Homo sapiens: one gene and its partners. The protein of the gene in region 2 interacts with the protein of the main gene of each other region in a pairwise test. Each region holds a gene or a part of one and is shown on either strand. Other genes may lie near its edges.

Region 1 (7,920 bases), on a different chromosome or scaffold from region 2:
GGGCAGGGCTCGGGACCTGCAGCCCGCCATGCCTGAGCCCCCCTTCGCCGTGGGCTCCTGTGGGGCCTAAGCCTCCCCGAGGAGCACCGACCCCTGCTCCACGGCACCCAGTCCCATCAACCACCCAAGGGCTGAGGAGTGCGGGCGCATGGCACCGAGACTGGCAGGCAGCTCCACCTGCAGCACCAGTGCGGGATCCACTGGGTGAAGCCAGCTGGGCTCCTGAGTCTGGTGGGGAGGTGGAGAACCTTCATGTCTAGCTCAGGGATTGTAAATACACCTATCAGCACCCTGTGTCTAGCTCAGGGTTTGTGAATGCACCAATCAACACTCTGTATCTAGCTACTCTGGTGGGGCCTTGGAGAACCTTTATGTCTAGCTCAGGGATTGTGAATACACCAATCAACACTCTGTATCTAGCTAATCTGGTGGGGATGTGGAGAACCTTTGTGTCTAGCTCAGGGATTGTAAACGCACCAATCAGCACCCTGTCAAAACAGACCACTCGGCTCTACCAATCAGCAGGATGTGGGTGGCACCAGATAAGAGAACAAAAGCAGGCTGCCCAAGCCAGCAGTGGCAACCCGCTTGGGTCCCTTTCCACACGGTGGAAGCTTTGTTCTTTCCCTCTTTACAATGAATCTTGCTGCTGCTCACTCTTCGGGTCCACACTGCCTTTATGAGCTGTAACATTCACTGTGAAGGTCTGCAGCTTCACTCCTGAGCCAGCAAGAGCACGAACCCACCAGAAGGAAGAAACTCCAAACACATCTGAACATCAGAAGGAACAAACTCCGGACACGCTGCCTTTAAGAACTGTAACACTCACTGCGAGGGTCCGCGGCTTCATTCTTGAAGTCAGTGAGACCAAGAACCCACCAATTCCGGACACACTAGCACTTTGGGAGACCTACACAGGAGGACTGCTAGAGGCCAGGAGTTGGAGACTCCGTCCCTACAAAATAAAAAGTTAGTTGGGCATGGTGGAGCGCACCTGTGGTCCCATCTACTCTGGAGGCTGAGAAGATCTAAGCCCAGGAGTTTGAGGTTACAGAGTGAGCTGACTGTGCCACTGCACTTCAGCTTGGGCAACAGAGAGCGAGACCCTGTCTCAAAACAAAAACAAAAAAAAGTTATATGAATGTGGTCTCTCTCTCAAAATATACTTTTTTTTGGCCAGTCATGGTGGCTCATGCCTATAATCCCAAAATTTTGGGAGGCCAAGGAAGGAGGATCACTTGACTCCAGGAGTTCAAGACCAGCTTGGGCAACATAGTGAGACTGTGTCTCTAGAAAAAAAAAAACAAATTAACTGGGCATGGTGGTGCCTGTCTGTAGTCTCAGCTACCGGGGTGGTGGGGAGAGGAGTGCTGAGATGAGAGGATGGCTTGAGTCCAGGAGGTCGAGACTGCAATGAATTATGATGGCGCCACCGTACTCCAGCCTGGGCAACAGGGCAAGACCTTGTCTCAAAAAAAAAAAAAGCCTGGGCGATGGAGCAAGTGTCGATCATGGCTCACTGAAGCTTCAACCTCTTGGGCTCAAGCCATCCTCCTGCCTTAGCCTCCCCAGCAGCTGGGACTACAAGTGTGTGTCACCAAGCCTGGCTAATTTTTCTGTAGACATGGGAGTCTATGTTGTCAGGGCTGGTCTTGAACTCCTGGCCTCTTGCTGCCTTAGCCCCCAAAGTGCTGGGATTACAGGCATGAGCCACTGTCCGGCTTCCCCTCCCCTCCCCCTGCCCCTGACAGGGTCTTGCTCTGCCCAGGCTGGAGTGCAGTGGCGTGATCTCAGCTCACTATAGCATCAAACTTCTGGGCTCAAGCCATCCTCCTGCCTCAACCTCCTGAGTAGCGGGGACCACAGGCGTGTGCCACCATGCATGGTCTTTTTTTTTTTTTTTTTGTAGAGATGAGGTCTTACTATGTTGCCCAGGCTGGTCTCAAACTCCTGGGTTCAAGTGATCCTTCAAACTTGGTCTCACAAAGTCCTGGGATTATTACAGGCATGAGCCACCACTCCCAGCCTCAAAATATCTTATTGTACTGTGTTCAACTATTTTCCAAGCGGTTGACCATAGCTAACTGAAACTCAGGAAAAGGAAACTTTGGATAAGGGGAGACTGCTGTAATAACATTGTCTTTGAAGGCTTTTCAGTCCCCAACTCTCCCTCCATTCACCCTAAAAAAAATTGAACCCAGCTGGGAACTGGACCCCAACCTAGGGTCCCGGACCACCTCAATCTTCTCTGTGCCACTGTAGTGAGCTCAGCAAATTGAGGAGTTAATGGCCAGAGTGTCAGGGGCAGGCTGGAGAAGGAAGGTAATTTTTCTGCTCTCTGCCCTGCAAGTTTCTTCCTCAAATTGCTGAACAGAGAGCACTGACCCAGCAGGGCCAAAGTGAGGAGGGGTGACAAATGTCTAAACTGCTGATGAGATGCTGGAGACCAATGTGCTGGGGTGGGTGGGTCGTGGGTAGGGAGGAAAGGAAACCTAGAGATGGGAATAGGAGCAGTCTTCACCTTGCCCCTGGGCCATGGGACCATTACTCTCTCTGCCACCTACCTCAATGCCAGCAGCCTGTTTGTACTAGACCAGAGCAGTGCAGGTAGGGCTGACTCGCAGGTGAACTCAGTGAGCCCAGAATCCCAGGTTTGGGAGGGACAGCCTTTTGCTGTAATACAGAAATGCCACCCGTTGGTGCAGGTGATGACCCCTCACTCCCCATGGGCACGTTAGGTAGGAACATACGTCCGGCATCCAGGCACAAAAGGGTCTTGCGGCAACACCCCGCGATCTCAAGAGCACCCAGACAGAAGGAGTGGAGGCAGGTACTGATAGTTTTGTTGCCCTTGAGGTTCGGAGCACAGCTGGACACCAAGGCCCCCTCCGCTGCCCAGCTCAGCAGCCCTTCCTCCCCAGCTTCTTTACCACCCCCAGTCTCCTTACCGGGTCCAGTGTCTTCAGCACTGCAATTTTACCAGCCCAGCTCTGCGAGTTCTCGAGAAGGGGCGGGGCCAGCGCCGTTATGTCCGGCTGCAGTAAGTGACCTCTCACTCCCCTCAGCTTATCCCTCAGCCATTGGCTGGAAGCGGGTGGCTCAACCATTGGCTGGAACCCGCCTCCTGGAGCCGAGACAGGCAGGTTGCTAAGAAGCCTGGGAGAAGAGGCTGGCTCTTTTTGCTGTCACTCTCGCCAACAGTCCGGAGTCCATTATACCCCTGGTGTGCAAAGAATGGGACCCTTGTGCACCAGGGCTGTATGTCCGGAGCTCGGGCAGTGTGGAAGGTGACAAGGAATCCAAAAGTTGGGCTGACAGGTGGGAGATTTTGAGACACCCCTGCCGCCCCTCCCTGGAGGAGGCCTCGGGATCCAGTCCGGTTTTCCCCGGCTGTGATCTCCACTTTAAACCCAGGGTAGACCTACCTCTATCTACTCTGTTGCAACTACAACTACCCTGTTTATCTTTTAGGGAAAGCAAAGTCAATCGCTTAGTTCTCGTATTCCAGGAATGATAACAGAAATGCCTAAAATAGTGGTTCCAAGAATTTGAGATTCCTTGGGCTAGTCGAATTTCTCCCCAAACAAAAATGAAACAACAACACTGAATAGCCGTCTTTTATTTTGCGTAGAAAAAAAAAATAATAATCGCCCCTTGGTGGCACACGCCTGTAGTCCCAGTACTCGGGAGGCTGAGGCGGGAGGATCGCTTAAGCCCAGGAGTTCGAGGTTGCACTGAGCCAAGATCGCGGCACTGCACTCCAGCCTGGACAACAGAGCAAGACCCCATCTCTTAAAAAACAAACTGCCCCTTAACAAGAGCAATGGCAGCTTAACACCCCGAAGTATGAAGGTTGTAGTCTCTTATCTCAAAGTAAGGGGCATAAATATAATACATTTCCTATTACCCTTTTGTCATTTGATGCAGGACAAAATTTATCAAACCTAGTCCCCCAATCTGGACAAATGTATCCATACACTGCCCTCTAGAGGCCGGACGGTGGAGCTGCAATTTTAATCAGTTTAAGTGAAGGTGTTCACCTTTAATTTTGAAAGATCATTTCCTTTCCTTTCGGCTCTCCAACTAGAGCTTTTACCAGGAATCAGGGAACGGGGGTGGGGGGTATTACCAAGAGATATAAGGTAAGGGAACCGACAGTGAAAAGTTGGCAAGTTGGCTTTGGCTCTTAAGTGTTTGGAAATGGAAAGGATTTCAATCTGTATACAATCAAATCACTGAAGAAGGCTAATGCCCAACCTATCCTACCAGTTGTTAAAAAAAAAATATATATATATATATATATGTATATATATATGGAGAGAGAGAGAGTGAGAGAGAGAGAGAGAGGGAGAAAGAGGGAGAGAGAGAGAAAGCGAGCTTCAACCTAAAAAAAAAAAAGTCTCAGCCAAAGGAAGATACAGAGAAGTCAGTTAGGGACTATCTAAAAGCCTCCTTCCTAATAGTGTCATCTACTTTTGTGTGACACACATACTTTACATAATTGACCTTAATCTTCAGCTTTTACTTTACAGATGAAGAAACGAGGCGGAAGGCACTAACTAACTTGATCAAGGCCACAGCTGGTTAAGTTGACAGAGACAGGCCTAGAATGTCAGATTTGTCTGGCACCAGTCCTCTTTCCTATCCACCTTCAGATTCTTTGGAATTTAAAGCCTACTGCAACCACACATAATCCTATTTCATTTCCCTTCCCTCGACCTTTAGACTGTGGTGGACTGAAGGGTTTGAAGTACACTAGGAGTCAAGAGCAGATCCAGAGGAAATTTTCCCGTTGAGGTGGAAGCTACAAGAAAACTAACTCAGTGATGTTTTTCAACCTTTGGGTCATGGACCCCTTTGAGAAACATATAGAAATGGATCCTAGAAATATGCACATACGGCCGGGCGCAGTGGCTCACGCCCGTAATCCCAGCACTTTGGGAGGCCAAGGTGGGTGGATCACGAGGTCAGGAGTTCAAGACCAGCCTGACCAACATGGTGAAACCCCGTCTCTACTAAAAATACAAAAATTAGCTGGGTGTGTTGGTGCGTGCCTGTAATCCTAGCTACTCAGGAGGCTGAGGCAGGAGAATCACTTGAACTCAGGAGGCGGAGATTGCTGTGAGCCAAGATCGTGCCACTGTACTCCAGGCTAGCGACAGAGACTCCGTCTCAATTAAAAAAAAAAAAAGAAATATGCACATACATTTTTGTATACTACTTCAAATAGCACCCCTCTCTCTAATCTGATCAGTGGGCCCAAAGATCCACAGACCATACCCTACACATATACATTCTGTTAAGAGGGCCTAAAAAGATATAATAGGGTTTGATTTGATGAACAATCTAGTGGCCTTAGAAGAGGGGTGATTAAATAGCAATAGAAGGGCTATTTTCTAAACTAGATGTTTAAGAAAAGATTAAAGGGAATAAAGATGTATCAAGATGCAGGGAAAGGTGTGTTTCTGATTCAGTAGAACATTACTGGGTATCCTTTCTTCCAAATTCCTAGTACCTGACAAATAGCAAAAATAATAATAATAATAACAATAAAATAAAAAAAAGCAACACTCCAATGCCCTTTTCTTTTTTTCCTTTTTTTACTTACATTAAATACATCGGTAAATCAGCAGTCGCATTCTGTTACCACGATTGTTATGTTGGGAGAGGAAGAAAGGCAAATGCTTTCTCAGAAGCAAAACAAAAACAAAAAACCACAACACCCCCCCTTAAAAAAACTGACCAGAAGAAAAAAATGAGCTGGGAAATAAACAAAAGAAAACTAAGATCCCCAAGCCCAACAGAGCTCAAAGGAAGGCAGAAGAGGTGGTAGGAAGTAGAGGGAAGGCAGCCGATAGGCCCAGAAGCTAAGGCCAAATCCTGTTCCTATGGGGGTGGGGGGAGGGAGAAGCCTGGGGAAGTGGTTTCCCAGGCCCAAGATAATGAAACATCTTCACTCCTGCTCCAAGGGGGAAAGCTGCACAGAGAAAGAACTTCATTTCTAGAAGACTTTGGAAAGCCATCCTAGTTCTTCCACTTGTAAAAAGGATGCACTGGGTGCTATGGGGGGCCAGTGGCTTCTGGGAAAGGAAGGGGGAAATGTGTGTGTTTCAGGGCCATGGGAACTAAGGCTGCCCCTGGAAAAGGAAGGGAATTGAGGCCTAAGTGGAAGAACCTAAGCTGGGTCCTTCAGAATCTCAGCTTCATAGATTTCTCAGCTGTTCTGGGATAGAAGGCAGTCTGCAAGCCAAAAGGGCAGGAAGGTTCCAATCCTAGGTCACTGTGACCTTTCCTTTCTTTCTTTCCCAAAACTCCGGGCTGGAACAAGGAACTTAAAGTTCTCTTTTGCCTTGATGGCTTCTCAGAGACATCTTAAAACACCTGATGAAGGATATGAAGAGAGACTAGAGATTTAGAAAGGACCAAGGTCCTCTGATAATATGAGCCAGTTGTAAGGTACCTTCAGTGCCGGTCATTCCCTCTCCACAGGAACAGGTGGTATGATACGAGGGCACCACAGGAGGCCTCTGTGGTACTAGCCCCTATTGGTACATGGATTAAACCACTGGTTGCATGATGGGGAGGGATGGGGGGATTAAGGATGGAGGGACTAAATTCAAGATATTAACAAAGGAACAAAGAAACAGGGCCTGATGGGAGGCAGAGGATAGAACAGACTGTACAGTGGGAATAAAGATCATACCTATTTACAAGGAAGTAGAAAAGACATGGTAATGGATATCAAATTGAGTGTGAAACCTGGGAAAGGACAGAAAACTCCTCCCTTTTGCCTGACCTCCTTTTTACTCCCCTACCTTGGCCTGTGCTATCCTGAGACACTCCTCAATTGCTCAATTAATTCTCCAGGAAAGGCAAACCTATAGTCAATAGTTAGCTTGGCAAGAATATAGGTTAATAATTAGAGTTGGAGGAAGCTAACAGTGGAGATAGGACTTGAGTAGCTGCCACTGGTAGTTTTATCTATAACCTCTCCTCGAACCTCGCATTAACCTCAGATTTCATTGAATTAAAAAGAAGGTGGGAGGGCAAGTAAATCAATCAAAACTTCCATAAAACAAGTACCCCAACTGAACTACCATCAATTAAAGTGCAAACTGCAGGGGTATATGGTGGCTGGGGCTGAGGCCATCTAAAGGCCAGAGGGGAAAAAATGCATATGTATAAATCAGAGGATGGGTACCAGAAACTGTCCCTCCTCCAATCAGATCACAGCAGAGCCAAAGATGCAGGCAACCAGTGAAAATTCTTTGGAAGACTCTGGGGTCCAACCCCCACGATTAGGGGAAACGCTACCTAAGAGGCTGCGTGAGGGGAAACTGGGCCTTTGAAGAGTTACAGAGCCACAGTTGACACTGCACCTCCACCTCCGCCCAGTTAGCTTACAAGGCACCTCCTGCCTGGTGCCTGAGATCTTGCCTCCCCATTCTCACCTCTACCTAGGAACACCCTCCACAAGGCCAAATCATGGATACCGCAATGTTTTCAAATATGAGAAACTCCAACCAAATAAAAACAAAAAGGAAATGTTTCCTTACTCCCTCCTGCTCTGAGCTTTATTCTCCCCCAGGGCCCTTAATGTAAATGAACTGGAAACCTCCTTCCTCAGTTCCTGGGTTCACCACTTTCTGCATCCTGGGGAGAGGAGAAAAGAGGCTCAAGAACAGGGACTGACCAAAAGCAGAAGGGGAAGGGACAGGAGTCAGAAGTGTTTTCTGAAAAAATGGGGAGGAACACTAGGGAGGAGGAGAAAAGATACGTAAGTCGCTGTCTTGTACCTATAATACAAAGTGAAGAAAGTTTGTTTTGGAAGGTAAGTCCTGGGGGGAGTTGACCCCCAAGCCCCAGAGTAGGGGGTAGGAGGCCAGTGGCAACAGCTGCCTGGTGTTTGTTGCTGAAGCG
Region 2 (7,308 bases):
AGCGAAAACGGGGCCGGGCGAGAGTGGGCGGGGCGGCCCGCCTGAGGCGTGGCCCGCGGGGCTAGCCCGGGTCCGTCTTACGTAGCCTGGGCGGAGGCGATGGGCTCCTGGTCCAGCGAGGGGCCTTCGGCGGACGAGGTTGCGGTGGCAGCGGGGGGGCGGGTACCTGGCGGGGTGGGGGAGCCGCGGCGGGGAAGGTGCTACTTCTGGGAAAGAGCGGGGACAGCAGCAGTGCCAGCTCGGGGCTGGCCAGGCAGGGCAAGGCTCCCCGAGTCGGAGGCGAATAGGCTCCCACCGGGGACAGGCGGACGGGCAGCAGCTGCTCCTCTGGGGGGCTCGGCGCCCCCAGCAGCCGCAGCCCGGCGCCGGGCCACCCGGCCAGAGGAGCCAGGAGCAGAGACCCAGCTGCGCCTGCGCCCCCACCCTCCAACAGGGGGCGCCCGTCGGCCGAGAACCGGAAAACCAGGGGCCGAGGGAGCAGGAGGGGACCGGCTGCAGGCGGGATTGGCGGGGCCAGGCGCAGAGGGAAGGAGGGCAGCGGGATGGGCAGCCAGGCAAGAAGGGGCGGGAAGAAGAGGGAGCAAACAGTTAGTCCCATAACCCAATGACCCACCCAGTTTCCCTTTCCCGGAGCGCTCCCTGGTAGAAGGGGCGGGGAGGATGGGTGACACAGAATGGAGGGAAGACAGGGGGCCGGGTTGGAAGCCTAGGAGGCGTGAGCGGCCGAAGCCCAGCCCTCCTCCCGCTTCTTGCGACCTCTTACCCTCCAGGCCGGCCTGCGCGCCCGGCTCCTTCGCGGCTGGGGCCTCCTCGCCAGCCGCTGGGCTGACAGCCCGGCCCTCCTCGGACTGCCCCTCCGCTATGGGCTGCAGTCCAGGTCGGTTCTTCTTCCTTCGGGGAGGGACAGGCGGGGGTGGGGGCCGGGGCGGGACCAAAGCCCAGCCAACTGGGGGGTCTCGAGGCGGGACTGGCGGGGCTGGGGCCCGGCTTCGGGACCGGAGTTCCTTGAAGGTGGTGACTTCCCGAGGAGGTGCCGAGGAGCCGCCCGGCGACCCCGAGGGGGGGAGCTCGGTGTCGGGCGAGAAGACTATGAGCCAGTCACTGCGATCTTTCTTCGCCTGCGGGACAAGGGGCAGCCCTGGGCCCCGCTTGCGCTTCTGGGCCAGCTCGTGGAAGGACGTGATTGTCCGGTGGGGCACCGGCTCCTCGCTGACGTCACTTCTCCATCCTCCATCAATTTTCCCTGCATCTGTTTTCGAGCCAGAATCAGTTATTCTTGTGTTGGTTTTCCAACCAGAGTCGAATTTTTCAGGTTCACTTTTCCAGCTAGAGTTAACATTCCCGTTGTTTTTCCAACCAGTGTTATTGTTTTCAGTGGTTTTCCATTCAGCTTTAGTTTTCTCTGTGTCAATTTTCCAAATTGGGTTAATCTTCCAACTGGGCTCCGTTTTCCCAGCGTCGATTTTCCCATCATCCGCCTCTAAGAGCTCAGAGGTAGGGAGATCCTGCTCCGCCCTCTCGTCCTCTTCCTCCAAGCCTGGGGAAGGGACGTCCTGGCAGGTGGTCAGGGCGTTGCAGTTCGAGTCCAGGCCAGGATCGGGTGAAGAAGAAGCTCCGGAGCAGGAATCAGGAGAGCAGCAGAAGCTGTCCGGTGAGCAGGTGCCAGGGCCTGCTGAAGCCAGTGGGGAGCCCTGCTCCAGGGGGATGATACTGGGCTGAGGGTGGGCATCCTCATCACCAGGGAGGTCCCGCAAGTAGACTGAGACAGGGGACTCATCGGGGCTAAGATCTGAGCAGGAGCTGAGTGAGGAGGAGCAGCCTGGGTCTGAGGGAGAGGCAGCCCCCTCTTCCTCCTGTGACGGGTCCTGCCGGTTTTCTAGGCCCGGACCGTGCTCCTGGCAGCACCGGCAGGGCACAGCTGGGCTGTTGGAATTGGCGTCCACCAGGGTGCCACTGCAGGGGCCCCTGCTCTCCTTGCCCCCAGTGTCTCCTGGAGGAGGGGGTGTGCTCAAAGGCCCCTCCTGTAGCTCAGGACGGCGGGACAAGTGCAGGCCCAGGGAGACGTGCTGGAGGTGGATGTGGTTGAGGTTGCAGAGTAAAGCTCTCTGAGGGGACAGCATGATGCTAGCGGCGATGGGATGGCTTCTAGAGAACCAGAAGGGTAGGGTCTCTCACATCCACCTACCTGGCAACCACAGGTGCAGACCTAGAAGACAGAGGTGGTGAAGCCCGGCCAGTGAGGACAAGAGCTGCGGGGAAGGACACCGAGGTGACTTGACGGCAGCAGCAGGCCTGAAGGCTCTGGCTGCTTTGGAAGATATTTCAATGAGATGCAAATCGCAATCGACTGACCATTAGTTTCCACTGCAGTGTTTGCAGATGGAGTCGAATGTAACCCCCCGGGAATGGAGCCGGGAGGGTCAGAGAACGCGGCTGCGCTCTGGATCTCCGAAGGGGGGCGGGGGCCTGGAAGAGGTCCGGGCCCAGAATGGACCTCCAGGTCCCTGCTGCCGCAATCTGGCCCTGCCCTCCAGCCTACCCCTTACTCCCAGAGGAAGGGACCCAGGGAGACCCACCCAGATGCCCTGAAAGGAGGTGGAGGATGGGGGTGGGGCAATACGCAGAGTTTGTCTGGTGAATGCAGGAAAGGGGTGGGGGCTGGAGAGGAAAAGGATGGAGCAGCCGTCAGCTTGTCAACTCCGCATCTGCTGGCTGCCTCGGCCGGGCTCCAGCCTGCGCCCTCGCCCCTCGGAACAGCGGTATGTCCATTCTCTCCGCATTCGTCTCCATCGTTCAGCCACCACCGCACCCTTTCTCTATTCATTTCTCCTGCTCCCTTGTCCTGCCCCGCCCCTCGTGCCCAGGTCCATCGGTCTACACCCATGGGCCGAGCCCTCCTCACCAGGGTCCTCCTGGAACCGCTCCGGCCTTGGGCTTGTCCGCGGCTCCCACGGTCCCCGCCCGGCGGGGCACAGAGCGGGAGGGGAGGGGCACTAGCACAACCTACCCTGCGCTGCGCAGCTGCACCCCTTCGCGCATGGGCGTGGCGTAGCTCAGACCCGCCCCCAGCGTTTAGCGTCTTTTGTCACCCACCTAGAGGGTTTGATATATCCTAAGCTTTTGGCCCCTGGGTCCTGGTTCCGTGCAGCGAGTCCTCCCAGCACCCCACCCTGCACATTCTGGAAAGAGCCAGACTCTGGCTGGGCCGAGCAAGAACAGAACCACAAGAAGGTTACACGATTATTTATTGAGAGCCTCCTCTCCCCGCCCTTGCAATCTCTAGGTCACTTTCTCCGCTTGTAGATTTTGCGCGCAAGCCCCAGAAAGACGGCTGGGGGCAGGGGTGCTGCGTACTGTTCAATGAGAGCCATAATGTGGCTGTAACTGTCTTCCTCATATTGCAAGAACACTGCTGGCAGATCCAGCTCCTCATATAGCGCCTTCACCCGGGCCACTTTCTCAGCCTCCTTCTGCCCGTAATTTTCCTGGAAGAGGTTGAAAGACAGGAAAACGGGCTTGGCCTTCCCCAGAGCCTCCAGGACCCCTCCACTCCCCTCATTCACATATTCCAGAACATCTCCAAAGCCACCCACTCCTTTCCTCCCTCCAATTTTCAAGTGTCTCTACGTAGCTAAAATCCCAAGCTTCCCTTCCCTATCCCAAATATTGCCTCATACCAGGCATCCTCTACTCCAGGGTTTCTCCACCTTGGCACTATTGAAATTTGGGACCAGATAATCCTGTCTGGGGGAGCTGTTCTGTGTACTACATGTTTGGCAACATCTTTGGCTCCTGCCAACTAGATGTCTGTACCACATGCACACACACAGAGTTGTAATGACAATGGCAAAAAATGTCTGCTGACATTGCCAAATGTCCCCTCGGGAGGAAAACTGCCTCTAGTTGAGAACCACTGCTCTATCCCTTTCCACCAACTCAGGGACCCACCACCCTCTCTCAGGCACCTTCAGGATCTGGTACTGTTCTGGAGTGGCCCGTTGCAGACACTGAACCACCAGCCAGCTGCATTTGTTGTCCTGGATGTCAGTGCCAATTTTGCCGGTCACACTGGGGTCCCCAAAGAGGTCAAGGTAATCATCCTGGGCAGGGAGGGGGAGGGCAGCAAAAGAGGAAGGATGAGGTTCCTGGGCAGAGGAGGAGTGAAGCTGGTGCCTGTTCTCTGCTACTGCCTCCTGCCTTCTTACCTGAATCTGAAAGAACTCCCCCATCTCCAGCAGGATCTTCTTGGCATTGGCGTGCTCCTTCTCGCCATCAATTCCTGCCTGCAGGGAAAGGGGGGTTAATAAGCCAAACCCCAGGGGTGCCGGCATCTTCCTGGCTGCTTCCTCCCATGGGGTCTTGCCCTACTGCAGCCCCAAATCTTTCCTCTCTCTTCAGACATCTTGGCTTCCCTGACCTAGACAGTCCTGACTGATGGTCCAACCTCAATCCCACTTATTTTTGGCTAGGCCTTCCTGGGAGTCATAAAAGAGATGAATCCATTCTAGAGGTGCACAGCCTGTCTCTTCCCTCACAAATGTCAGTCCCCAAGTCATTCTGATCCACCTTCCTAATATTTTTGCCACCTCCAACTTCTTTCAAGATGAAAAGGAAATGTAGAGAAGCAAGGTCAGGGTAGACACTTAATCCCACTGACTGTCTTTAATCCACTCTTCTCCCTCTCAACCTGGATGATCTCCACACTCCTATCCATACTCAGATACAGGATATATTGTTCCCCTATTATGTGCTAAGCACTTTCATATCCCTTGCCTTGCTTAATCTTTACAGTCCTGTGAAGTAGGAATTTTATCCCCAGCTGAGGAAAGAGACTGAGCGAGACCGACTTGCTCAAGGTCACACAGTTTTTCACCAGGGGTAGCAGTGTTCACGTTTTCTGCTCTATGCCTTGCTGTCCAAAAGCCCCCATCAGCAGAGCAGAGAGGGGTGAGGAGGCTCACTCACCATGTACATGGCTGCAGCTATAGGAAGGTAGAAGGAGTAGAAAGCTGTCTTGTACTTGACAATAGATTTGTACCTGAGTAAGGGGAGAAGAGAAACTCCTCAGGAGGGCAATGCACATCCTGAGCCCTCCCTCGCTGTCCAGACATGGTTCGCGCTGTCCCTCACCTCCCCTCACCTCTTTTCAGTGAATCTGACAAGATCCACATTGCCCTGGGGGGCTGTGAGGAGGTCCAGGGTCTGCCCAATCTCAGTCTGATAGGAACTCTAAGCAAGACAAAGACGGTCCATGAGCCAGGCTTTCTCCAGATATGCGAAACCCTGGTATCCCAAGCCCAACATCCCATACCAGCTGACAACTGGGCAGAATCAGAAAGGCAACAGAAGGGGAGAAAGCCCCAAAACTTAAGGCCCATATTCATACACACAGTCCTTTATCACCCTTTCTTCCAATTACACAGGACAGAGAAGCCCTTTCTTGCCACTACCACAACCCCACTTCCCAACACCCTTCCTCGCTTTCTTTCCCTTCCAGGCACGCTGCAATCCTGTACCCTGAAACCAGCTAGATGAGCATGTCCTATAGAGGCCAAGGCTACCATGGGCACCCTCTGGGCATCGGGCCCTGTCTGCAATACACCTGCAGGAAGAGCTCGATCAGGTTCAGGTAATAGGGCTGCTCCCGGCAATAGAGCTTCAGCAGGCGGTAGATACATGCTTCCAGGAGGTTAGCATCATTGATGGCATCCAAACCCACGCCCGGCTGTCATGACAGACAGAAAAACAAGCAATCAATCTCTAGTCTCGGTTCATACTAAGAGCCATCACCCCAACACCTCAACCAGGCCATATATAACCACCTCCCTGTGGCCTGTCCCCATACCCACTGCTATTTTCCTGCCCACATTACCTTCTGATACCAGCAGATCTGTCCCCGGCGGGTAAGGGATGAATCCATGATGTCATCTGCCACCAGGAAGAAAGCTTGCAGCTAGAAAGAGTGGAATAAGACCTGCAGGGCTCCTCATTACTGTTCCTTCTATCAGCAACAGAGCTGCTACTTTATATCTGTATATAGTTTTGCTTTTTTTTGGTAGGGGACAGAGTCTCACTATTATCCAGTGCAGTGGTGCAGTCACAGCTCACTGTAGCCTCTAACTCCCAGGCTCAAGTGATCCTCCCACTTCAGCTTCCTGAGTTCCTGAGACCATAGGCACATACCCCATGCCTGGCTATTTTTTTTTTTTAATTTATTTTTTGTAGAGACAGGGTCCCACTATGTTGCTCAGGCTGGTTTTGAACCCCTGGGTTCAAATGATCCTCCTGCCTCAGCCTCCCAAATTACTGGGATTACAGGCATGAGGCATCACAGCCGGCCAGAGCTGCTGCCTTTGACAGTCCCTATGAGCTGGGAAAGTCAGGATGGGGAGACAGAAGACTTCTGTGCTATGGAGACTTGGAAAGTGACATAACATGTTTGGCTCAGACTCCCCGCCTATAAAATGGAACTAAAACACTCTTGTTTTAGGTTAAGAAACTAGAACAGATCTTTGACATCTCTAATGAGCCCTAGATTATTCCTGGTGTCAGGGAGATTAGGAAACACCTTCATATACCGTACTCTATTCTTGCCAAAAACCTCAATGAATGCTTAAAGTAAGATCTATTCATGAAACTGACTTCACATTACTTCCTAAATAAAAGAAGGCTATTCCCACATTGCCCCCAGCACTGTGTTTGAACACCCTGGTGACTAGGAACACAGCCTTACCTAAAGCAGCTCCTTAGCAGTGCAGGTCTAATAAGGTGGAACTGAAATCTGACTTTGACCTATGAGTCTCAGACATCTTTAAACATCTTTAAACATTAACTAAGGGCTTACTCTTCTGAGTGCCCATCTGAAGGTACCTGAACGTGTCGGGTTTCCCACTAGACCATGATCTCCTTGGAAGCAGGGACAGTAACTTCCCCCTCTTAGCATTTGCAGAGCCTAGCACAGCATTAGGCCTGGAGTGAGAGTTTCCTAAACACTTGTCTGACAAAGAAATTAATAAAACACTCTAACATTCCCTGTGATACTTCTTGCAGTCAGTCAAACTATGTTTTGGTTCCTTAAATAGCTTTTCTTTTTTTTTTTTTTTGAGATAGAGTCTCACTCTATCACCCAAGCTGGAGTGCAGTGGCGCCATGTGGGTTCACTGTAACCTCCGCCTCCCAAATTCAAGCGATTCTCCTGCCTCAGCCTCCCAAGTAGCTGGGACTACAGGCACCTGCCACCACCAACTGCTAGGCCAGCTAATTTTTGTATTTTCATTCAGTAGAGACTGGGTTTTGCCATGTTGGCCA
Region 3 (7,996 bases), on a different chromosome or scaffold from region 2:
GAGGCTACACTTGTTTATACAACTGTCAAAATGTTTTTCCTTTCTTCTTTTTTTTTTTTTTTTTGAGGCAAGTTCTCGCTCTGTAGCTCAGGCTGGAGTGCAGTGGCACGATCACAGCTCACTGCAACCTCCACCTTTCCAGCTCAAGTGAACCTCCCACCTCAGCCTCCCACCTCAGCCTCCCACTGGCATGTCACTACACATGGCTAATTTTTCTATTTTTTGTAGAGATGGTGTTTTGCCATGTTGCCCAGGCTGGTCTTGAACTCCTGACCTCAAGTGATCCACCCACCTCGGCCTCCCAAAGTGTTGGGATTACAGGTGTGAGCCACTGCACCCAGTCAATACTTTTTTTTTTTTTTTTTTTTGAGGCAGGGCCTCACTCTGTCACCCAGGCTGGAGTGCAGTGGTGCCACCTTGGCTCACTGTTACCTCCACCTCCTGGGCTGAAGCCATCCTCCCACCTCAGCCTCCTGAGTAGCTGGGATTACAGGCATGCACCACCATGCCCAGCTAATTTTTGTATTTTTTTGCAGAGACAGAGTTTCATCATGTTGCCCAGGCTGGTCTCCAACTCCTGGACTCAAGGGACCTCCCTACGTCGGCATCTCAAAGTGCTGGGATTACAGGTATAAGCCACTGCACCCAGCCATCAACTGTCAAAATTTATGGTACAGCCAAGATACATGCATTTCATCATATGTAAATTTTACCTTTCAAAAAAAGAACCATAAACAAAATGCTGAATTTGATTTAATGATATGCATGCTGAAGTTCTTTAGTGATGAAGTATGCTGATGTCTGCAGTGACTTCTTACTACTTCTTGGTGAATACTTGGAAGTAAAGCTGTAAGGATACTTACATCTTAGCAAGTGTTCTCTGCAAGACCTGGTGTCTGCTGACATTCCAACCTCAAGCTGTCTCCTGGCACCAGTTCTGTGAATCAGCCAAGCTTCCTCCAGGCTTAAGGCCTTAGCACCAAGGGTTCTGTGGCCCTGGAGTACCACTTGTCCTCATCCCCTTCACCAAGTTCATTTCTACACATCTTTCCAATTTGATAGGTTGGGAGAACCCTCCTGTACTCCCAGCCTAGACTGAGGCTCGTTACTTGTACTACACTTTCTTCCCTCCTTATTGCAGTTCATAGTGACTCATTCATCAAGTATTCACACACATACAGACCTTCTTCATTAGGCTTTTAAGGGGATCAAGACTGCTTTGTTCACAATTGTATTCCCTATGCTTGGCTTGCTGACTGGCTCATCAATAGGCAGGCATTCAAAAGAAACTTTGTTATGTAAATGACTAAAAGGCAATTAGAATACGATTTTACTTCTTATGTGAAAGACAGGCAGCTTTAAAGAATTGGCAATACTCCCAAGGTGTGGTAGCTCACACGTGTAATCCCAGTACTTTGGGAGGCTGAGGTGGGAGGATGGCTTTACACAAGGAATTTGAGACTAGCCTAGGCAATATAGCAAGACCCCCGCCTCTACCAAAAATTAAAAGGTTAGGCGGGTGTGGTGGCACATACCTGTAGTCCTAGCTCCTGGGGAGGCTGACACAGGACAATTGCTTGAACCCAGGAGTTGGAGGCAGTAGTGAGCCGCAATCATGCTGCTGCATTCCAGACTAAGTGACAGAGTGAGGGCCTGTCTCTATGAAAGAAAAAAAAATTTAAGGCCGGGCGTGGTGGCACATGTCTGTAATCCCAGCACTTTGGGAGGCTGAGGCAGGTGGATCACTTGAACTTAGGAGTTTGACATCAGCCTGGGCAACATGGTGAAATCCCTGTCTCTACAAAAAACACAAAATTAGACAGGCTGAGATGAGAGGATCGCTTGAGCTGGGGCAGTTGAGGTGCACTGTAGCCTGGGCGACAGAGTGAGACCCTGTCTCAAAAAAAAAAAAAAGGAATGGCAATATTCGGTATTAGATGAAGCATGGAGAAATAGGCACTTGCCCTCACTGCTGGAGGAAGTATAAATTGGTATGGTTTGAAGTACTTGTTTATTTTGTATTTTTTGAGGCAGAATCTCACTCTGTCACCCAGGCTGGAGTGCAGTGGCGTGATCTTGACTCACTGCAACCTCTGCCTCCTGGATTCAAGCTAGTCTCCTGCCTCAGCCCTCCGAGTAACTGGGATTACAGGCTTGTGCCACCATGCTTGGCTAATGTTCGTATTTTTAGTAGAGATGGGGTTTCACCATGTTGGCCAGGCTGGTCTTGAACTCCTGACCTCTAGTGATCCACCCACTTAAACCTCCCAAAGTGCTGGGGTTACAGGTGTGAGCCACTGCGCCCAGTCTTGAAGTACTTGTTTAAATGATCAGTGTTTATACCTGTTGATCCAGCAACTTCACACCTGGATATTTCTTCTACAAGGCACAGTAGCACAACTATGTATCTGTATCAGTGTTTCTGTACACTGCCAGAAGTATTGAAAAACTGGCAACAACTTAAATACCTTTCAAGAGGAGGCTGATAAACTATGAGCACACCTATAAAATGGAAATTCTGTACCACGCAACCATTATAAAGAATAAATTTGCCGGTGTGGTGGCTCAGGTCTGCCATCCCAGCAATTTGGGAGGCCAAGGTGGGTGGATCCCTTGAGTTCAGTAGTTTGAGATCAGCCTGGGCAACATGGTGAAACCTGTCTCCACAAAAATATACAAAAATTAGCCGGGCTTGGTGGCGCATGACTGTAGTCCCAGCTAGTTGAGGGGAAGGGGCCGGGTGGTGAGACGGGAGGACAGCTTGAGCCCAGGAGGCAGAGGCTGCAATGAGCCAAGATCATGCCACTGTACTCCAGCCTGGGTGACAAAGTGAGACCCTGTCTCAAAATAATAATGATAATACTAAAATAAGGTTAATTCTACTATACTGATAGGGAATGATTACTAGTAGGAGCTAGGCCGTTGCAGAAACGAGTGAAGTATAATCCCATTTTTATTTTTACAAAATCCTACGTAATCCTACACAATCTAAAAGTATAGTGGGTTTTGGTTTGTTTGTTTGTTTGTTTGTTTTTAAGGAATGGGGGTAGGGAGCAAACCAAACTGTTGATCAGGATTATCTCCTAGAGTAGAAATGGGAAGCATGGATTTCAACTTTTCTTTTATCGATTTCTCCCAACTTCTTAAAACAAGCAAGTGTTATTTTAAAATAGTGTCAAATATAGTAAACTCTGGATTCTTTGCAAAACAAACCTCTAAGATAAGGTTTGATATTGCTTCCGCTAAAATAAAGCTACGACACTTCCGTGCACGAAAAAACGGCCTCTTGAGGACCTGCAACCCACAGATCACCCAGGTGCCCCCATATCATTCTTGAAATCCTACCTGTAAAGCCCAGGAGGAAGTATAGCGAATGCCAGTGGGTCTAGGAGCTCTGGGGTGAGCACGCCTCCGGAAGGAAAACGGCAACAGAATTTATTCTGCTTTTCCAAGTAAATGATCCTTCCACAGAGGCACTTGGGACAAGAGGCGACGGGTACTTTTCACGTTTTCGATCTATTGGCTAAGATCCTATCACCTCAAAACAAGGAGACGAGGAAACCCTGGGATCTTGATCCCATTTCGATTGAGAAAACAACACGCTCCTTGCGAAGCGAAACGGGGCTGGCCGCGGGCAGCGCGGAACCACGCGAAGGCGTCGGGGGCGGGCGGGCGCGGGGACCAGGGCCACCCGGTGCAGCAAAGGGGGCAAGCAGGCGGCAGGGCGCGCGGGGAGACAAGGCTGAGTGCACGCCGCCCGCGCCCTCGAAGGCTCTAGTCCCACTCCTTCCTCCCTTCTTGCAGCCCCGCCGCGCCCTGGCGAAGGCTACAGGGTCAGGTTCCCCGCACCGAGGAGCCCAGAAGCCCGGCTGCGGGCGCTCTGAAGATCCGGGACCCCGGCCTCCGTCCCCCGCCAGCTTTAGGGACTCTGGCGGCGTCTCTTAGCCGGGTAGATGTTCCTCCTTTCCCTCTCTCTTCCAAGCCGCTGCCAGGCCGGGGGTGAGGCTGCACCTCAGTCTTCAGCCCCGAAGGCCGCGCCCGGGGCGGGTCGCTCCCCATTCAGCTAAGAGGAAGCAGCGGCCGGGGGGCAGGCGAGGAACCTGTCCCGGCTCACCCGGCAAGACTGCGTTTCCCCCACCCTCGGCGCTTCTTTCTGTGAATGTGAATGGAACTAAGCGTTCCTTTCTCTCCCTCAATGGCCGGCGAGGAGAATTCAAATGCGGTCTTTGGGCGCTCGGTATGGGTCTGGACCTTGGTTTTCAGAGCCTGCGCGTCCAAGGTCGCTAGCCTTTCCCGAAGGAAGTGACAGCTGCGGCGGCGCGGGAGGCCCATCCTCGGTCGTTTAAAGCCACTTAAGGAATAAAAGCCCCCGAGAGAGCAAAACGACCACCCGAAACCTCGGAAGCGTCGGGGGTGCCGGGCCCAACGCTCCCACGTGTCACTGCCGGGGACTCGCGAGGCGAAGCTTCCCAGCGCTCAAGGCGCTCCCGCCTCGTCCCCAGGTATCAGGAACAGACACCCACCAGGTCCACCAGCGGGTCAGACGCCGCCTTCGGGCAGGCTGGGATCTTCCGAACTGGGAGCGGAGAGTAAGGGGCTCGACCCCGGGACGCGAGTCCGGCCTTCTGGACTCCGGTTCAGGGTGTGTGTGCGCGCGGAGGGGCTTATCTGGGGGCCCTGGGTAGCACACGTGTTCGGTTTTTTTCTCCCCGACTCCGCACGCCTGGAGCGGCAATACTGCCTGCCCTAGAAGGCCAGCGGCGAGTGCTCGCCACTAGGGTCCCAGGGAGGGTTTGGAAAACTGATGAGTTAAGTGAGCGACCCCAGGGGACAGAGGGCGAGTCGAGAGTCGGCCAATGGCTGCGGTGGGCGGGGAGAAGACGACGCGGGGATCTGCGTGGGCCGGGTCAATTCCCTACCCTCGACCTGTCGATGCCCCGCGGCCCCGCCCGCCCTCTTAAGCCTGGCTCAGCCCTCAGGGCCCGCCCGAAGTCTACCGAGCCCGAGTGGCCTACCGAGCCCGAGTGGCCCCGCAGCGTCCAGGAGGCGCCCGCTCCGCGGTGGCGCTCTTGGAGGTGGTGTCGGAGGTAGGCACGGGACAGGACGCGCCTGGGGCCCGGGGCGGTGGTCTTCCAGGGCCGTTGGGGAGGGCGGCAGCACTCGCTGGCGCAGTTCGTTTTGGATGGTCGTTCTGCCCTCTCGGGGGCTTTGAATCCCAAGTTGCAGATCCCTGAGGTCGGAGGAGGCTAGGAGAAGGGCGCCTTTGGAGGATCGGGAGGAGACGGGCCGCTGCCTGTGTCGTGGCTGACCTCTTCTCCTGACCCCGTGTTCTTTAATTTCTGAGTCATGACCCTGCTTGGTTTTCTTATTGGGCTCATTGATCTCAAGACCCGCCGGCCCTGAAGGGGCTTCATTCTTCAGCCTCGGTGAACTTGCTGCCTGTCTATTAAAACGCCATCCTTTCCCGGCGGTGCGGGGGCGGGAGGACTGGCAGTCGCCGAGGCTCTTCGCTCCCACCTGGCCAGGGCTCGTCCACGCGGCTCCCGAGGGGCTACCCCAGGCCCCAATAGTCCTGGTAGAATGATTGGAGTTTCCGAGGAACCCGGGGAATGTGGCGGACGCTGCCCGCGAGGGAAAAGAGGTTCAGGCGGCGCATCCTAGGGCAGCCAAAAGTGGCGCGCCCCTCCCCTGCGGGCAGTCAGGACCGCCAGGACCCGCGGGGTCACACCGCTGGGCCAGAGCAGGTCGCGGGGTCCCTGGACCTGCCCGGGGGCTCTGGGAGCGCGTCTCCATCTGCGCGGTGCGACCCAGGGTCCTCGGCTCTTCCCTCCCAGCCGAGGGCCCAGGAGCGCCTGGAGCTGTCGCTTGCTCCATTGCCCTCCGACCGCCTGCGCTCGGCTCCCGGCCCAGCCCCGAGGTTGGCAGGGCCCCGCGGCTCCCACAGACCCTACCAACGAGTTTTGTAGGACTGAGAAGAAGGAAGGAAAGGGAACTTCAATGGGTTTTGCAGGAACCGGGTTGGGGGCCGAAAGCGGAGAGCGGGTGTGGGAAGGCGGCCGGGCTTAGGGAAGGGGTGCTTGGAGAGGGAAGGGGAAGGCAACACTAACCCGGAATTTAGAGTAGGGCAGGATCCCGGCAGATTTCCGTTTGGGGCTTTTTTGTGTTTGCTTCTATTGCTGTTTTTTCGTTTTGTCTTAATTGTGGGAGCGGGCTGGCGGGATCGGACTGGGGGCGTTTATCCTGTTCCCTTGGATCTGGGGCTGGCTGGGGTGGAGGAGGCTGGTGGGGAGGCGCGGGTCGGACCCCGGGAAGCTCCCGCGCGGTGTCCTCAGCGGCGCCCGCTTTTCTGCAGAGCCGCCGAGCGTGCGGTCCCGGGATGGCTCTACCCCGGCCAAGTGAGGCCGTGCCTCAGGACAAGGTGTGCTACCCGCCGGAGAGCAGCCCGCAGAACCTGGCCGCGTACTACACGCCTTTCCCGTCCTATGGACACTACAGAAACAGCCTGGCCACCGTGGAGGAAGACTTCCAACCTTTCCGGCAGCTGGAGGCCGCAGCGTCTGCTGCCCCCGCCATGCCCCCCTTCCCCTTCCGGATGGCGCCTCCCTTGCTGAGCCCGGGTCTGGGCCTACAGAGGGAGCCTCTCTACGATCTGCCCTGGTACAGCAAGCTGCCACCGTGGTACCCAATTCCCCACGTCCCCAGGGAAGTGCCGCCCTTCCTGAGCAGCAGCCACGAGTACGCGGGTGCCAGCAGTGAAGATCTGGGCCACCAAATCATTGGTGGCGACAACGAGAGTGGCCCGTGTTGTGGACCTGACACTTTAATTCCACCGCCCCCTGCGGATGCTTCTCTGTTACCTGAGGGGCTGAGGACCTCCCAGTTATTACCTTGCTCACCCAGCAAGCAGTCAGAGGATGGTCCCAAACCCTCCAACCAAGAAGGGAAGTCCCCTGCTCGGTTCCAGTTCACGGAGGAGGACCTGCACTTCGTTCTGTACGGGGTCACTCCCAGCCTGGAGCACCCAGCCAGCCTGCACCATGCGATTTCAGGCCTCCTGGTCCCCCCAGACAGCTCTGGTAAAGGGAGTTCACACCATTTGGGAGTCGAATTGGACGGGAATGCAGGCGGGAACGGGAGTGTCCGGGAAGAGGCGCTTCCAGGTGGAGCTGAGGCTGCAGAGTGCGGGAAGGGGGAAGTACCTCCATGAGAGCCAGGGCTGTTCTAGGCTCACTTCTGAGGCCCTGCTTGCTTAACTGCATGACTAAGGTTGGTTTTAGTGAGAGCTGAGGACCAAGAGAGAAATGGTTCCTGCAGCGAACTCCCAGGTAGGTTCAGATTCTATGCTAACATGCAATGACAGCCTTCAGCAGTTCACACCTAACAGTCCCAGCTCAGCTAGCTACGCTGACCTTAGTCAGGCATTACCTCTGATCCTCAAATTCCTTGAATTTGCCTAATGGGGTTAATTACATAAACTTCCATGAGGCTGTTCTGAGTCTCAAATGAGAAATTGTATATGGAATTGTTTACAGTGAAATCGTGTATGAACAGACCATGTAAAATGAGCAGGGAAAAATAGAAACAACAAATAAATATCAAACTGGGATGATGGTTACCTTTAGGGAATTAAGGAGGGAAACACCTCATAAAAGCACTTTATAATGCATTTTTAATGAAAAATTGTTTTAACCTGCCTTTTGCTAGGATCTGATTCTCTTCCTCAAACTCTGGATAAAGACTCCCTTCAACTTCCAGAAGGTAGGCAGGACTCCTTGCATGGATTTCTTTCCCTGAACTAATGCAGAGTCAACTCTCCTCATTCTCTTTTCCTGCCTCGGCTTTCCCCTAGGTCTATGCCTCATGCAGACGGTGTTTGGTGAAGTCCCACATTTTGGTGTGTTCTGCAGTAGTTTTATCGCCAAAGGAGTCAGGTTTGGGCCCTTTCAAGGTAAAGTGGTCAATGCCAGTGAAGTGAAGACCTACGGAGACAATTCTG

Evidence for each region.
Region 1: the proteins of RUSC1 (region 2) and SUOX interact in binary tests that used the Homo sapiens proteins (3 or more experiments, as listed by UniProt).
Region 3: the proteins of RUSC1 (region 2) and PRDM14 interact in binary tests that used the Homo sapiens proteins (3 or more experiments, as listed by UniProt).

What each region holds. Positions count from the first base shown.
Region 1 is NC_000012.12:55,992,368-56,000,287, reverse strand, and holds the start of SUOX (sulfite oxidase, mitochondrial), read right to left. Parts: upstream 3,013-7,920; 5' UTR 2,949-3,012; intron 2,674-2,948; 5' UTR 2,565-2,673; intron 956-2,564; exon of another isoform or gene 830-955; intron 1-829. UniProt on the Homo sapiens protein: Catalyzes the oxidation of sulfite to sulfate, the terminal reaction in the oxidative degradation of sulfur-containing amino acids.
Region 2 is NC_000001.11:155,316,586-155,323,893, reverse strand, and holds the start of RUSC1 (AP-4 complex accessory subunit RUSC1), read right to left. Parts: upstream 3,001-7,308; 5' UTR 2,903-3,000; exon of another isoform or gene 2,207-2,902; 5' UTR 2,121-2,206; coding exon 764-2,120; intron 493-763; coding exon of another isoform or gene 82-492; exon of another isoform or gene 49-81; intron 1-48. Other genes in the region: FDPS (farnesyl pyrophosphate synthase), read right to left, coding at 3,285-3,485, 3,966-4,100, 4,206-4,283, 4,966-5,038, 5,141-5,229, 5,603-5,725, 5,873-5,953. UniProt on the Homo sapiens protein: Associates with the adapter-like complex 4 (AP-4) and may therefore play a role in vesicular trafficking of proteins at the trans-Golgi network. Signaling adapter which plays a role in neuronal differentiation.
Region 3 is NC_000008.11:70,068,241-70,076,236, reverse strand, and holds the start of PRDM14 (PR domain zinc finger protein 14), read left to right. Parts: upstream 1-4,984; 5' UTR 4,985-5,087; intron 5,088-6,352; 5' UTR 6,353-6,376; coding exon 6,377-7,076; intron 7,077-7,704; coding exon 7,705-7,758; intron 7,759-7,849; coding exon 7,850-7,996. UniProt on the Homo sapiens protein: Transcription factor that has both positive and negative roles on transcription. Required for the maintenance of embryonic stem cell identity and the reacquisition of pluripotency in somatic cells.